Linked DNA regions of Homo sapiens: region 2 is linked to region 1. The links come from fine-mapping of genetic effects on gene expression. A gene starts in region 1. The other region holds a variant in brackets. All regions are shown on one strand. Distances are between the middles of the regions.

The links. PIP is the estimated chance that this variant, and not a neighbour inherited with it, causes the effect.
Region 2: its variant is fine-mapped to the expression of EIF1AD in fibroblasts (GTEx, PIP 0.99).

Annotation. Positions count from the first base shown.
Region 1 is chr11:65,999,136-66,007,447 of GRCh38, reverse strand. It overlaps EIF1AD (eukaryotic translation initiation factor 1A domain containing), which reads left to right and starts at 5,291. Exons shown (of 6, transcript NM_001242481.2): 1 at 5,291-5,538; 2 at 6,943-7,145; 3 at 7,287-7,395; 4 at 7,773-7,881; 5 at 8,051-8,098. The coding sequence starts at 7,059. It overlaps BANF1 (barrier to autointegration nuclear assembly factor 1), which reads right to left and starts at 4,945. Exons shown (of 3, transcript NM_003860.4): 1 at 4,878-4,945; 2 at 4,075-4,213; 3 at 3,299-3,822. The coding sequence starts at 4,197. The coding sequence ends at 3,676. RefSeq lists silencers at 1-90, 4,584-4,923 and enhancers at 3,410-4,216, 5,224-5,593, 6,695-7,194.
Region 2 is chr11:65,956,272-65,964,590 of GRCh38, reverse strand. TSGA10IP (testis specific 10 interacting protein) reads right to left here. Exons shown (of 8, transcript NM_152762.3): 6 at 5,609-5,708; 7 at 5,277-5,401; 8 at 4,625-4,774. The coding sequence ends at 4,651. SART1 (spliceosome associated factor 1, recruiter of U4/U6.U5 tri-snRNP) reads right to left here and starts at 2,857. Exons shown (of 20, transcript NM_005146.5): 1 at 2,498-2,857; 2 at 460-517; 3 at 21-76. The coding sequence starts at 2,810. RefSeq lists an enhancer at 2,212-2,999. The variant A/G (reference allele first, on the strand shown) is at 4,263.

The sequences.
Region 1 (8,312 bases):
AGCCCCAGAATCGGGCCTGGCTGGCTCTTCAAGGCTGCCACCAGTCAAGGTTGGGAGTGACAGGAAAGAGCCCTGGTCCCCACAGGGAGGGGCCAGCCTGGAAAGGGATCAACAGTCACAAGCACCTGCTGGGAGCCTTCCATGCTCAGCAGGCTGCCGGGGGCAGGGCTTGTGGTGGTCCAGGTAGCCTCCCCCTACTTCCTTTCTGGGGGCAGCAGGAGCCCTTCAGCACCCCAGAGTGCATGGGCTGGGTTCACACGAAGTTCTAGGCTGGCTCTGAGCACTCATGACTAGACCAGCTGAGGGGGTCAAGCTCTGGCTGGGTGTGATGGGGGGATGGGGTCAGTATTTGCTGATTTCTGGGCCCACCTATGTCCCAGGCTAGTGGGTGGCCAGGCATGTCCTCTTGGACACCACGGGCTGACACTGAGACAACCTGACTCATACCCCTCACCAGCCAGGTCTGCTTTCTGCGCCAGCATTCCAAGCCGTGGTCCCTTTGTCCTGCTGGCTGAGTCGGGCTGGATCTGAGAGGCCACACTGTCACAAGGTACATTCTAGATGCCCTTTGTCTACTGCTGTCCCAGGACAGAGCCAAGAACTTGTGTGGGATGCAATATGGAGTCCTGATAAAGGGTTTGTGGCCTGCCACCTGGTATATGCACTGCCTGTGCCCCAAGGGAGAGGTGAGAAGGCAGGTTCCAGTCCCTTCTATGGCAAAGCCTGTGGGTGAGCCGGGAAAGGCAGACAACAAGGAAATAAAGCAGACAGCATGAGCCGCAGGCTTCCAGCAGGGTCCCAGTGCCACCAGGCGAGGCCAAACCAGGAGGCCAGCGTGGGCAGGAGCCCAGGGAAGGGCTTCATGGAGGAGGAGTCTCCATGACCTCACAGAGCACCAGCAACAAGCTGGCAGCATCAGGACTGAGGTGTGGTGAGGCCGGAGCCCTGCAAAGCCCCCACCTAAGCACACAAGGCCTGCGACAGCATCATAGCATGAGGGTCAAGGCTGAGGGGACTTAGCCGGGAAGACATCAGAAACAGTCTGAAACTCAAGAGAGAGCCCTCGTGACCACCTCAGCCGGGACTCAGACCAGCAGCCTCCCAGGAAGCGGCTTGAAGCACAAGCTGGGCCCTGCTGCAGTCACCTGGTGTCCCTTTCAAGCTGGGCCACTCGCACTTTCCAGTCCCAGCCTTGCACAGAACTCTCATCCCTACAAATAACAATTTAGTTTCTGACCTTTCACTCAATCGTTCCAGCCTCAGGTCTTTATTTTTGGTTTTCCTGTTATCTTTCTATTGTTGAGATGTAGCGAATACACTGAAAAGGGCGCAGAACATACACTTTTGGTCAATGCCTGTACCACCACCCCATAGGTCAGAAACACAGGTCAGGGTAGGCCAAGCCTACCCTTAAGCCCTTCCACACCCTCCCCCAAAGATAATCCCTGTAGACTTTTTCCTTTACTATTTACCATAATCATTTCCTTTGTTTTCCTTCTAGTTTTACCATCTATGTAGGAATTCCTAAGAATTTGTTTGTCTTCATTTGCTATTGAGATTCGTGTTGTACACAACTATCATTTGTTCATTTTTACCTCCGTCCAGTGTCCGGTGGCATGAGTGCCTATTTATCTACTCTAGTATTGACAGCCGCTAGCGTTGCTCCCAACAATGCAGCTGCAAACTCATCTAGGTCCTGCTGCAGGTGTTCGGGACTTTCTTCAAGGCACAGTCCTGAGAGTGGAACTGCTTGGTCACAGGGCGTGTCAGTTTTACTAAATAACACCCAACTGTCTTCCCAAATTGTTTAGACCAATTTATACTCCCACCAGCTAGGTATCAGTTCCTGTTGCTTCATTATCTCATCAATACTTGGTATTGTCCAACTTAAAAGTGTTTGCCAGTCAGGTGGGTGTTAATGGCATGTGATGTCTTATTACTAGCAATATGGAGCACCTTTCCTGTGCTTATTTACTGGGAGGGAACCCTCTTCTGTGGCCGTCTTAGATCTTTTACCCATTTTTCTGTTGTTTTTTTTTTTTTTTGAGACAAAGTTTCATTCTGGTCACCCTGGCTGGAGTGCAATGGCCGTGATCTCGGCTCACTGCAACCTCTGCCTCCCAAGTTCGATTCTCCTGCCTTAGTCTCCTGAGTAGCTGGGATTATAGGCGTGCACCACCACACCCGGCTAATTTTTGTATTTTTGGTAGAGATGGGGTCTCACCATGTTGGCCAGGCTGGTCTTGAACTCCTGACCTCAGGTGATCCACCCACCTCGGCCTCTGAAAGTGCTGGGATTACAAACGTGAGCCATTGCGCCCAGCCAGTCCGCTTTTTTCTTGATTGCAATTCTGTATGTGCTATGGAAATAGTCCTTTGTTGTTTATACTGCTGCAAATATCCTTTCCCTACAACCACCTCATTTTCCAAGTGGAGAAACTGAGGCTCAGAGAGGCTAAGCCACATGACCAAGGAACACATGGCCGGGTCCCTGGGTTTCCAAGCTAGTTTGAGTTCCAGTCTGGCTACTTCCCAGGAGCAAGTCCATGGGCAAATTAGCCTCTCTGAGCCTCAAATTTCCTCACCTGTAAAGGAGAAAATATTTATTACTGTGAAAGAAAAAAATGTTTGCAAAGATTTTAGCTTCAAGCCTGGTTCATACTAAGTGTTCAAGAAATAATAGGGCTGGCCGGGTATGGTGGCTCACACCTATAGTCACAGCGCTTTGGGAGGCTTAAGGATCGCTTAAGGCCAGCATGGGCAACAGAGCAGGGCCCTGTCCCTATTAAGTTAAAAAGTAAACAAAAAGAACAGGACTAAAATGTACTGAGGTGTACTCCCCTCACATCCTTCCAGCTGTGATGCCTGTGCTCCTTCTCCTCCCTAAGAGATCATGGAAGATGGCAAGCACCCTGCCCACCCTTACAGAGGCCGGGAGAGCAGATGATGACTGGCAGGTGAACTCTCACCCACATCCGGCCCACCCTGTCTGGTACCTCTGACTCCCACTGACTTTTCCACCAGGTGCTGCCTAGCCCAGCTGTTGACTTAACTGACATCTGGAGCACAGTCCATCTGGCTCCCAGGAAAAGATCCACCCACACCCTCTCCCACATCACTCGGGGATTGAGACAAAAGTCACCTGCCTGAGGCCTACATGGCTAGGGTGGCTGCCCTCTGGGAGTGGAAGGGAAGCTGCCAGTTTCGGTCTCTACTGATAAGGAGTGAGGGAAACATGGTCAGTCCCTGAAGGAGAGGCAACTCCCAGCCCACTTGCTTTTCAGTGCACAAAGCCCAGTCATGAAAGCCACTGACTTTATTGATCTAAAAAACTTTACAAGGACAGTGACTGTTCTGCCAAAAAAGGAGCCAAATGGTATCAAACGGATTGAAAGTGAGGGTGGGGGTGAGGGATGGGGCCGGGAATCCATTCAGGAAAGCTGGTAACTGTCACCAGGGAACTGGCAAGGGAAAAAGGACGGGGGAGGCATGCAAGAGCGAGAATCCAAAAAAAAGTTGAAATGGTTAGGGGAGAAAACTCCCAAAAGACCCCGGAGTACGTCGGAGGTGAGTACGACAATAGCAATCTTTTCCTTCGTAGAGGACAGGGGAGGAGTCCCTACTCGGCTGCAAACTCTGGATGAGGGCTGGGGATTGAGAGCTTCCCAGAGAGCATCACAAGAAGGCGTCGCACCACTCTCGAAGGCATCCGAAGCAGTCCCGGGACTGCTTGGCGTTGGCGCCACAAGTGTCTTTCAGCCATTCCCGGAAGAGGTCTTCATCTTTCTTTAGCACCAGAAACTGGCCAAGGACAACATAGGCCTGCAAAACAGGGAAAAGGAAGGAGCGTGCTGCTCAGTGCTCAGTGAGAGATAAGAGCAAGACAGCCATTCCTGTGCCATTCAGAGCACACAAGCCCAGGAAGCAGCGCGGGTTTTGCCCCCCTCTCCTCTCCACCAGGTGCCCAGGCTCTGGCAGCCTCTTCAGATTATACCTTACTGTCCATCCCCCAGCAGATGGAATCACTTCCCTTCCACCCCCCGCTTGCACTAGGTACACGCAGCCACCCCACACCTTGTCAAAACCCCTTTCCTCCAGCTTCTTGCCCAGGACTTCACCAATCCCAGCCAGGCTCCCCACTGGCTTCTCCCCCATGGGCTCTGCCACGAAGTCTCGGTGCTTTTGGGAGGTTGTCATCTTGATCAGGCTTAATCTAGGAATCCCAAAAAAAAGGCAGATTAGGGCTGAAGACCTGGAACTTCTAAGGGCCCACGAGCAATCTCATAGTAAGAGGAAGCCAAGCCAGGGGTTACAGTGGCTTGCTCGATCCCCCTCATCCTGAAAGGAGAAAACAGTTCCAGGGAGACTCTTCCCTACTATTTTTAAGAGGAGTTTCTTCCTGCAGGACCTGGATTTTGATCTTGCCCCAGAGGAAAAACGATCCTGCCTAACAGGTGGCGCAAGCGGGGCAGTGGAAAGATGCCCAGAGTCCGTAGCCAGGGCTGCGCGGAAGCTATCACTCCCTCTGTGACCTTGGCTGAACCAAGACGACACTGCCTGCCTGGAACGGCCACTTGGCGTGGAAAGCTAACCAAAGGGTCTCTCTACCTACAGGGCGAAGCGCACACCTAGCGCTGCGCACACCCGCTCCCCGCCCGCGGGGTTCACGCCGCGCCCCAGCTCCGCCCCCACCGCGCGCCGCTGCGGCCCGCCCCTTCCCGCGGCCCGGCTCCCACGCGCTGCACCCCGCCCCCTCCCCGCAGCGCGGCCAAGCTCTCCCCCAGGGCCCGCCACAGCGCCTGCGACCCCTCTCCTCCCCTTCTCCCCGCAACCCCTCTGGCCTCCAATCAGGGCCCTGCTCCGCGGCTGGCGCTCACCCGCAACTTCAGTTCCCGTAACGGTTCCTCCCGCCACCCGGCCGCTCCTGCGGATACCTCAAGCCACTAGAACTTTCTTCCACTTCCGCTTCCGGGTCGCTTCAAGAGCCGCCTTTAAAAAAGAAACATTCCACGTTGGGCACTTCTAGCCAGTTAGAGCTATAGAGTTGAGGCGCCCCGGACCTCGACGGCGTCCTTAGTAGGCGCTCCTTTCCGGTCCTTCGCGGGAAGCCCTGCCTTCTAAGGTCTCGCTTCTCGCGCAGTTCTGAGGGAGATAGGCCTCCAGGGAGAGGACTTCCTTTCTCTGCTGCCCGGACCCGGAACTCAAGGACTTAGGCTTGACGGACCTGGCGTGGGGAAGAGTTAGAAGACGGACAAGGGAGGGGACGGGAGGCCTCCGAGACAGCGCCGGAAGTACGGTTTTCGGAGGGATCAGACTCAGACTCACGTCGCACTCCTCGCAGTTGGACTGGTGGGAACTGGGAACACTGGAGACCTGATTTCTAACTGACGCTACCGTCGCGGCCGCCGGCAAGTTCCTTTACTGTGTTTTCTTGGTTCAGCCTTGAAGTGAGTCGTGGACGATCCTCTCTCAGCGTCCAGCCTAGACGGCGGTGTTGCTCCGGCAGCGTTCCTGGGAGCCGAGGGCCAGAGACTAAGTGTGGGTGTTTCTCTGAGGGTCTTTTCTCCGGGATAGACAGGGAGGAGGAAGGAGGACAGCAACTAGAGACGACAGTGTTTCTTTCGGAAACCATCAGTCTTAAGGGTACTGGCCTTCGTCTTCTAAGTACGCAAGTCAGAAATATGCAAATGTCGCAGACAAGCCTGCTCACCTCAACCTTTAATTAACTAGTTCCTGGCTTGAACCATCACGGTGGCCACCTAGTTTGTCTCCGGCTGTAGTGTGTTGCCAGACTGAACTTCTCTGTTGTGTGACTATGCTAGACTTGGGGTGTACAAGCGTGTTGAGAAAGATACGGTTTATTTCAAACTCCTTCCAGAGAGGTTGCCAGGATGACTTCTCTGGAGCATGCGTATAGTTTTATATTACACTAGTACTTAAGATTATAGGAGTTACTTTTTTTTTTTTTTTTTTTTTGAGACGGAGTCTTGCTCTGTCGCCCAGGCTGGAGTGCAGTGGCGCGATCTCGGCTCACTGCAAGCTCCGCCTCCCGGGTTCACGCCATTCTCCTGCCTCAGCCTCCCGGGTAGCTGGGACTACAGGCGCTCGTCATCACGCCCGGCTAATTTTTTGTATTTTTGTAGAGAGAGGGTTTCACCGTATTAGCCAGGATGGTCTCGATCTCCTGACATCGTGATCCGCCCACCTCGGCCTCCCAAAGTGCTGGGATTACAGGCGTGAGCCACCGCGCCCGGCCGGAGTTACTTTTACATGACATGCATTGTATTGTCCCATTCTGTTGTAGCAGGACGAGTCGCAGACAGAACTCCTCAGACACCAGATTAAAGAAGGAAGAGGTTTTTTTATTCGGCCGGGAGCGTCGGCAGACTCGTGTCTTAAGAGCCGAGCTCCCCGAAAAAGAAATTCCTAGCCCTTTTAAGGGCTTACAACTCTAAGGGGTCTACGTGAAAAAGTCATAATAGATCAAGTAAGCGTGAGAAACGTGACTGGGGGCTACATACATCAGCTAACAGAACAAAAAGTTTTACAGTGCTTTCTCATACAATGTCTAGAATTTACAGATAACACCAGTAGTTTTGGTCAGGGGTTAATAATATTATTATTATTTTAGCCACCAGGGCCAGGTGGTGGTGCCAAGGTCGTCTAGCTATTTATCTTACTTCTGTTTCTTTCCAACTTTTTGCTTTCTCCCTTTTCTCCTGTCTTATAAACTAGGGAAAAGGGGAGGTTGGAGAGAAACTAAGAAGGCCAACAGGAGAAGTGGTGGCCTCATACCATACTGTAACAGTGCTGAGTTAGCTGTTATTTTTCTGGGACCTAGAGAAGTTGAATAGTTAGGAAATAAACCAAGGTAGGATTTGAATCCAGGCAGTTAGACTTCAGAACCCATGTTCTTAACCAAGACACCGTGTCACCCCTCAGTAAAAGGCCCCTCCCCATCTTCAGAACAGTCCTGGGTTCTGAGCCTGCCATCCAAGGAACTCAGGAGGAGGAGTTGACAGTCTCTTCGTTCCTAACCAGTGTGGGACGACTTCAGCATGTCTCAGGCCACCAAGAGGAAGCATGTGGTGAAGGAGGTGCTAGGGGAGCACATAGTGCCCTCCGACCAGCAGCAGATTGTCAGGGTGAGTGGCGTGGGGCACAAGCTGTTCTGCTCCCCACCCCTGCAGCCCTGGAGGGCCCCTGGGGTGGGGGTAGGGTGCAGCGTGTCTGAGAGGGTGTTTGATCTGACTGATGAGACTGATTCTTGGTCTCTCCTGAACCAGGTACTCAGGACCCCAGGGAACAATCTGCATGAGGTGGAGACAGCCCAAGGGCAGCGCTTCCTGGTGAGCATGCCCTCCAAATACCGCAAGAACATCTGGATCAAGAGAGGTGAGAGGATTACTCCTGTAATCCTGGCACTTTGAGAGGCTGAGATGGGAGGATCGCTTGAGACCAGCCTGGGCAGCATAATGAGACCTTGTCTCTACAAAAAGAAAAAAATTAGTTGGGCACGTGCCTGTGATCCCAGCTACTCAGGAGGCTGAGGCCTGAGAATCACTTGAGCCTGGGAGGTGGAGGCTGCAGTCAGCTATGATCATGCTATTGCTTGCCAGCCTGGGCAACAGAGCAAGACCCTGTCTCAAAAAAAAGAAAAAAGAGAGAGGTGAGAGAGGCAGCCCTCTCTAGGAGATAGAACCCCTTCCTATGGCTTTGGCTTTCCTTATTGCAAGCAGGCCTGACTTTGCCTTTTCTCTTCTTATCTACAGGGGACTTTCTCATTGTTGACCCCATTGAAGAGGGAGAAAAGGTGAAGGCTGAAATCTCGTTTGTGCTCTGCAAGGACCACGTGCGCTCTCTGCAGAAGGAGGGGTTTTGGTAGGTGGTCCCCTTGATCATTGGCTGTCTGGCTTCTGGAGGCATTGCCTTCCTAGCTTGGGAATTAGGGGAGGGAAGGTCATGGCATCCCAGGCAGACACAGCTGGAAGCAGCTCTTTTGTGAGAAATTTATTTGTCCTTTCTGACTTTGGCTCATCTCTTGGCATAGGCCTGAGGCCTTCTCTGAAGTGGCTGAGAAACACAACAACAGGAACAGGTGAGGAACAAGCCTTGGGGTGGGGTACATGGAAAATAAGGGGTTCATGCTTTGGTGCCTTGAGGGAAAAATAGAGCCTTCTTTCCTCCTTACATAGGGTATCTGTTGAGAGCTCCTAAGCATGTGGTATAACATGGTTATGAATGGGGTTTGAAGGTCAGATGCTCTGGGTTAAAATCTTGGCTTTGCCACTTAAAGCTGAATGACTTTAAGC
Region 2 (8,319 bases), 43 kb after region 1:
ATCCTCAGCCCCATACTCACCCTTCTTGATGGCATTAACCTCCAAGGGTTTCAGCCCCAACTTTGCCCGGAGTTTGCTGACAACAAGAGATACAAGTGTTAGGGGCTATTAAAGACACAGGGTGCCATGTGCATTTCCAGACAGACAAGAGGAGAAACAGGGTGGGAGTGAGTGGTCCCAAACACAAAGTCTGCCCCAGGCAGCCTAGGACACTGGGAAGGGCCCTGGCCTCCAAAGCAGGAAACATGGGCACCAGCCTGGTCTGCGTCTAACCAGTGAATGCCACTTTACTCTTAGGTTTTAGTTTTCTCTTCTATAAGTCAACTGTTGGCTAAGATGATTTAAACAATCTTTCCAACTCTGATTAGCACACTTTCATGTGAGAAAGCCTCCCCCGTGCTGGCCCCAGAGCCACCTCTCTTAGAAAAACAAAGTAGAAACAAGGGAGACAGTACTCACTTAGTCTCCTCGATGCTGAGTGAGGAGGCATCGCCTGAGCTAGTTTTGGAGCTGGCAGCTGGAACAAGAAGAAGCATGGCTCAGGAGCTGAACACAGGGCCAAGAAGCCAGCATCGTTGGCTCCAGCTGCAGGAACAAAAATGAGGGCCCCTCACCAGCACCTGGGCCTGCTGAAACACCAGAAAACAGCAGCTTCTTCCACCCAAGCTCCCCAGCAGCTCCTCTGCCCGAGTCCAGTCTCAGAGCCCTGCCTCTTCTGTGCACCTTCCTTTCCTGACCCAAGACATCCAAACTGCTGTAGTCACCACTCTGCCCTCTACTTTTTTCTTTCATTTTTAACAGACAAGGTCTGGGCCGGGTATGGTGGGTCATGCCTGTAATCCCAGCACTTTGGGAGGCCGAGGCAGATGGATCACGAGGTCAGAAGTTCAAGACCAGCCTGGCCAAGATGGTGAAACCCCGTCTCTACTAAAAATATAAAAATTAGCCAGGCACGGTGGTGCGCACCTGTAATCCCAGATACTCGGGAGGCTGAGGTAGGAGAATTGCTTGAACCCAGGAGGCAGAGCTTGCAGTGAGCTGAGATCGTGCCACTGCACTCTAGCCTGGGCAATGGAGCAAGACTTTGTCTCAAAAAAACAAAACAAAACAAAAAAAAAACTCTTCCTTTCCTGCATTCCCATCCTGCATCCTACCTTCTCCTTTATCTTAAAGGCTTCTCTCTCCACCTGGGCCATGGATCCCAACCTCTCCAGGCTCCCCAAGGTCACCAGCCTCCTCGTTTCTAAATCTAGTGGGTTCTTTTCGGTTCTGGTTTTGCTTGATCTCCTGTGGTATGTGGGACTGCTGATCGCTCCCTCCTTCTAACAATACTCTCTTCCCAAAGTTCCCATGACACAAAGGTTTTCCTGCCTTTTTGGTTACTCTGTCTCCTTTTTTTGGTAACATCTTTCTCTGCCTACTACTAACATAAGGGCATTTCTCAGGTTCTAGTCCTGACCCCCTCTTCTCATGTCACAGTCTTTCAGGGGCTTCACTGGCCACCCAGATACTGACTCCCAATGGCTTTATCCAGTCCAAACTCTGGATTTCCCCATTACCATCAACCTTGACAACCCCAAAAGTGAACTATCTCCCCCCACCCCCGCTCCAAATCTGCTTCTCTTCCCTACTCCTCAATTTCAGTAGAAATGACACCCACTACCTATCTGGCTGCTCAAGCCAAAATTCAAGGAGTCATCCTCCATTCCTTCTTCCCACCCTCATACAAGTGCTGAGTTCTGTTCATTCCTCCTCCAAAACACCTCTCCAACCTGTCCACTTCTCTCAATCCCACTGCTGCTGCCTTGGTGCAGGCCACCATCAGCCCTCCCCTGGCCTATAGCCCTCCTGGTTTCCTGGTCTCCAGTCCTGACTACCTTTGACTAAATTCTCAATCCAGTGATGTTTACAAAATACGGATCTGAGCAACTCACTCCTCAACTCACATCCATGGCTCCCTACTATCCTCAAGACAATCTACAGTTCTTAACAGAGACTACAGTACAGGGTCCTTTGTGTTCACATCCCTGTCTATCTTACTCCCTCATTTCTCTACCATGCGCCCTACACGATTCGTCCAATACCAGGTTTTTCTTGCCTCTGTATATGCTGACACTACTTCATTCACTCATTCAACATATTTATTGAGAATCTGATTGTACCAGACAACTGAGGAAAACAGAAGCCCTCTGTCCTCAAGCAGCTGAGTGGAGAAAGTCAACCTCTAATCCTAAACAACCGTAGAAAGACTTTTTTCTTTTTGAGACAGAGTCTCGCTTTGTTGCCCAGGCTGGAGTACACTGGCGGGACCGCAGCTCACTGCAGCCTCTAACTCCTGGGCTCAAGGGATCCCGTAGAAAGACTATTTAATAGAGCTGGTAAACAGCTTGGGGGTTTCCTGGCCTGAAGAGCTTCGCTGACACTGCGCGCACACCCAGACCCACGCGTTCCGGGACCCCCGCCCGACCCGCCCCCTGCGCAGGCCCCGCCTCCTCACCGGCCTCGTAGCCGTCATCGCGCTTCTCCCGCTTCACGCGCCGCTCGGAGGGCTCTGCCTGGCTGCGCTCCCGCCCGTGCGTGCTGCTCCGGGCCTCAGCTTCGGCCCCGCGCCGCCCGCTCCCGCGCTCGCCCCCACGTTCCCGGCTCCGCTTCCGTCGTTCGCCACCGCTACCGCCACTGCCGCCACTCCGGTGCTTGTGTTTTTTGTGTTCCCGGTGCCGCGGCGGCTGCTCGGTGGCACCCCCGGTGCCGGCCGCCGCCGTCGTCCCGGCCGCCTCCTTCTCTCCGCGATGCTTCTTGGACGACCCCATAGTGGCACGTCCACTCCGAGCCCGGCTGCCGCCGAGCCCAGACAACGCAAAATGGGAATACTTCCGGGTCGCTCGGCAGCCGCTGTCGTGTTGCCGGAAACTAAGAGCGGCTGCTTCCGTCGCTCGCCTTGGAGCCTGCCCCAGAGGCTCATGGGAAGGCCGGGATCAGCGCTCGACTGCACATTCGCGCCGTCTCGGGTCGGGTGGGTTCTTTGAGCGAGTGGTCCCATTGCGCATGCGCTCCTCAAGGGAAGCGGAATTAACCCGGAGGTGGGATCCCAGAACTGGAAGGACTTAGAGCCCATTAAGTCAGTGTCTTCGTGGCTTTAAGTTCCTCCCCGGCCTCCCTGCGCTTGCACTTCACCGGCAACGGGGTGTTCACTACCTCACGGTCTTTCCGTAGACACCTCCCTCCTACAATGGGCGCTCGCTTAGTGGACTCCTAGGGTCGTGGCTCCAACGGGTGTTGTTTTCCCGAGATCTCCAATTCCACAGCCCAGCTTCAGACCCGCTATAACCAGTATCGTCAGGGAACGCTTCCTTCCCACGTTCCCTGTTTTGTTTTGTTTTGTTTTTTCCCTTGAGATAGGATCTCACTCTGTTGCTCAGGCTGGAGTGCAGTGGCGTGATCACAGCGCACTGCAGCCTCGACCTCCTGGGCTCAAGTGATCCTCCCACCTCAGCCTTCCCAGTAGCTGGGACTACGAGAGTACGCTACCACGCCCCTTTAATTTTTGTATTTTTTTGTAGATGGTTGGTGGGGAGCGGGGGTAGGGGGTGGGGTCACTATGTTGGCCAGGCTGGTCTCGAACTCCTGAGCTCAGGCTATACACCCGCCTTGGCCTCCCAAAGTGCTGAGATTACAGGCATGCGCCACTGCGCCTGGCCCTGGATTGGATTTTTAAAACCTGGCCCCGTGAACTGTTAAGATTGTTTAGGAGCTCCACATGGGCGTCAGTGTATCCCTGGAACCCCTGAAATTGAATGCAAAATGTGGCACATCTGTGTGTATGAGTTTTTTTCTTGAGGAGACCAGCCCTAACTTAAAACTATTGGGACTTAAAACCCCAGTGCAGGCCGGGCGCGGTGGCTCACGCCTGTAATCCCAGCACTTTGGGAGGCCAAGGCAGGCGAATCACGAGGTCAAGAGATCGAGACCATCCTGGCCTACATGGTAAAACCCCGTCTCTACTAAAAATACAAAAATTAGCTGGGTGTGGTGGCGCACACCTGTAGTCCCAGCTACTCAGGAGGCTGAGGCAGGAGAATCGCTTGAACCTGGGAGGCAGAGGTTGCAGTGAGTTGAGATCACACCATTGCACTCCGGCCTGGTGACAGAGCGAGACTCTGTCTTAAAAAAAAAAAAAAAAAGCGCAGTGCACACAATCCCAATCTCTCCTGAAACCCCTCCCCTCACCCAGTGGTTGCTCAGTCTGTGGCTCCCTGTGTGGC[A/G]CAACTCAGCATGTGTTAGGCTATGTTGTATGCGCCCCTTTAAGGATCCACCCCCTCTCCCACTCACTGGGCGTCCTCAGAGGCAGGAGTCATTTCATCTTATTCATGCTTGAATTTATAGGACCCAACATATACATTGGAGATGGGGTGGAGAAGTCACAGCTCTTGCTCTTTGAGATGTCCCCACTCCTCAGGAGCAGAGAAGGGGCTGTGTGTACTGGGTGGGGGGAACCAAAAGAGCCAAAGCTCCTGGTGGGGAGGGGGTGCGGGGACAGAGCTAAGCCTGCTGCCCACCCACCTGCCACCTCCAACTTCCAACCCGTAGCTTCCACCACCCCCACCACCAGAAATCTCATACTGTGTTTGCCATAAAGCCTTTAATTTTATCTCAGGGACTGCACTCCGGGTCCAGGCTGGGGTTGTAGTGCCTGTCAGGCTGGCTGCCGGTGGGTTCTGTCCTTGGGGGCCTCTGAGGAGAGTGCTCCATTCTCACCCCCATTGACCTGTGGCTCCTTCAAGACACAGATAGAGGCCCCTGACTCTGCAGCTCCCACCCCCATGCCCAAGGAAACCACTGACAATGTGGCTTCAAACCCTGCTTCAGTGCCGGCTTGCTGTGTGATCCTGGGCAAAGTGACTCTTCTCGAGTCTCACTTTCCTTATTGTCAAGTGGGCTTCATAATCGCTGCTCTGTACCAGGTTATTCTAAGGCATGGGGTGACCAGCGTGGTGGTGCCAGCCCCTAATGAGGGACTTGGTGTGTGGCCGCTCAGATGGTTGCAGAGTCCCAGACTGGTTCTGCTGCTTGTTCGCTCCTGCGTCCTTAAAGAAGGCCCTTCCCCTCAGGTCCTTAGTTTCCTCATTGAGAAGTAGGAATGACAACCCTGGCCTTGCCTTCCTCTGGGCTCTCTGCCTGTCCTGGGGGAGGCCCTCCAGAGCCCAGAGTGCTGGTGTGGGCGCCCCTTCCCGCAGCAGCATGGCAGAGTCAGTTCTTGACCTGACGGGGAGACTCACCTGGGTTTCCTGGGGGTGCCCTCTCTGTCCACCTTTCCTGCCTCAGACAGCAGCTGCTCCTCATCCAGCCCCAGTGCTGACAGCACCTGGGAGAAGCGCCGAGTGACGGTGAGCCGGGCATTGGCCTGAGGAGAGAGAAGACGGCTTCCTGCTCTGCACCAGGGCTGCCGAGGGCAAGGTGGGGATCGGGTTACTGAGGGGGTCCCAGGGATTCCAGAGGGCAGCAGCCCTGGGATCCTATCTGCAGGGACCTACTCGCATCCTGCTTCCCTACCCACTCAGCCAGCTCTTCACAGGGGGCAGCTATGTGCTTGCCCAGGTGCCAGCCTCACCTGCATAGCCTGCTGGAACAGGAAGGGCCGGGCCTGCACCCTGTGCTGGATGCCTTGCAGCTCCGCCTGGTACTCAGCAAAGCGCTGTCGCTCCTGGCGCCTGCAGGGGAGACAGGCCTTTGTGCAGCTAACCATGGACACAACTGTTGATCTCCATTCCTGAGCCCGCTTATCTTCACTAAGGACTTGATATTCATGTCCTCACCCTCACCTTTACAAAGCTATTTCATTCCCATTCTTGCCTGGATTCCTTGTGAAGTCAGCCAAGGTGGAAATTATTCACCCAATTTACGGATGGATCGGGAGGGTTGAGGGACTTGTTCAAAGTTGTGCAGCTGGGAAGTGAGGGGCCGAGCCCTGTGCAGCTGGGGCTTGCCCATCCTCCTGTGCCAGCCCCATGGGAAAGGGGCCAGTGCTGGCTTCTGAGCTTCCAGACACGTGCTTACATAGCTTCCCCTCCCCATCCTCTTTCCCTTGAGGGGGAGCTGTGGTTGTTGGTTGTGTGACTTTGGGTGAGGCCTCTCTCTGGGCTCTTGGCTCTGGGCTCAGTTTATTTCACTGTGCTATAGTAGGGATCGGACAAGCTTGCCAGCATTCTCTGTGGTTCTTGTAAGCAGACAGCTTGGAAAATGGGACAGAGAAACTAAAAAAAAATATGTTTCAAATTTAAAAAACACACCCCTGAGAGATCAGGGTTCCACTGGGGAAGCACAATTTTCATTTATAAAAACCCAATTTGGCCAGGCGTGGTGGCTCGCACCTGTAATCCCAGCACTTTGGAAGGCCAAGGAGGGTGGATCACTTGAGCCCAAGAGTTTGAGACCAGACTGGGCAACATGGTGAAATCCTGTCTCTACAAAAATTAGCCAGACATGGTGGTATGCACCTGTAGTCCTGGGTAGTTGGGAGGCCAAGGTGGGAGGATCGCTTGAGCCTCGGAGGTCTAGGCTACAGTGAGCTGAGATTGTGCCACTGCACTCCAGCCTGGGCAACAGAGCAAGACCCTGTCTCAAAAAACCCAAAACCCAGTTTGTGCACTTGTCAGAAATGTGTCTGTTTGACAAACTTGAGTATCACTGCCACTCATGAAGAGAGCACTCTAGCAGCAAGAGGGACCTTCGAGCCACACCCACATGGGACCAGGCATCCATCTGTGAAGCATGTAAGAGAGGCCTTGAGGTGTGGAGGCAGCACCCATGGACAGGAGGGGAGGGAAGACGCAGACAAGAGGACAGGAGGGGAGGGGAGACACAGACAAGACCCCAAGACCTGTACTGGGACCTCAGCGATTGTGCTGGGCCCGGTGGAAAAACTCAGCCTTGCTGGGCCATGCCACCCTTGCTGTGGCCCTGTGCCAGGGAAGGAACCATCCTTCATTGAGAAAAAGACATGGACTTGAAAACCCATGGCCCGGAACACAAGTTACTGCAAAAACGGCTTTCACCATTTAGGAAGGAATTTATGGCAGTTACAAGGGGAGGTGGGAAATGAGCTGGCAGTCCCTATCTTTTCTGTGATATTGTGTGCACTTTTCCTGCTGGATACTTTATGCTATTTCTGTTAGAAGTGACAGGAGCTGGCCGAGGCGGGCAGATCTCGAGGTCAGGAGATCGAGACCATCCTGGCCAACATGGTGAAACCCTGTCTCTACTAAAAATACAAAAGTTAGCTGGGAGTGGTGGCGTGCGCCTGTAATCCCAGCTACTTGGGAGGCTGAGGCAGGAGAATCGTCTGAACTGGGGAGTTGGAGGTTATGGTGAGGCGAGATTGCACCACTGTACTCCAGCCTGGCGACAGAGCGAGACTTTGTCTCAAAAAAACAATGACAGGAGCCCTGAGCAGAAAGGGAAGTGGTGCCTATGGGTGTCAGCCCCGTCCATCATCTCAGAATGGAAGGAGACACATCCCTCCCTCCCACAGGACAACCTCTTTTGTGCCTGCCCTTCCTAGGCAGGACAGAGTCTCCTGTTCCGCTCAGACAGCGAAGTTCATAGGCTGTAATGGCTGAGAGACTGCATGGGAGATACCTACTTATGCCTTAGCCCTCTCAAATAGAAAGTAAAAGGAGTGAGGTTGAATCACTCTTTTTGCTGCACCTGCCACTTGGAGTTCTGAACCTTACACTTCCTGCCTCACTGTGAAAACAAAACACTTGGCTGGGCGCGGTGGCTCACGCCTGTAATCCCAAAACTCTGGGAGGCCGAGGCAGCCAGATCACTTGAGGTCAGGAGTCTGAGACAGCTGGGGCAATATGGTGAAACCCTGTCTCTACCAAAAATACAAAAAAATTAGCCAGGTGTGGTGGCGCGCACCTGTGGTCCCAGCTACTCAGGTTGCTGAGGCAGGAGAATTGCTTGAGCCCGGGAGATGGAGGTTTCAGTGAACTGAGATCACACCACTGCACTCCAGCCTGGGCAACAGAGCAAGATTGGGAAGGAGAAAGGATCCCCCTAAACATTGGCCCAAGCAGTCCCCCAAAACACACTTGACCTTTCAGAGCCTCTGTTTCCAAATCTGTAAAATTGGGGTGATTAAGACTGAGCCTCGGCCGGGCGCGGTGGCTCACGCCTGTAATCCTAGCACTTTGGGAGGCTGAGGCGGGCGGATCAGCTGAGGTCGGGAGTTCAAGACCAGCCTGACCAACATGGAGAAACCCTGTCTGTACTAAAAATACAAAATTAGCCGGGCGTGGAGGCGCATGCCTGTAATCC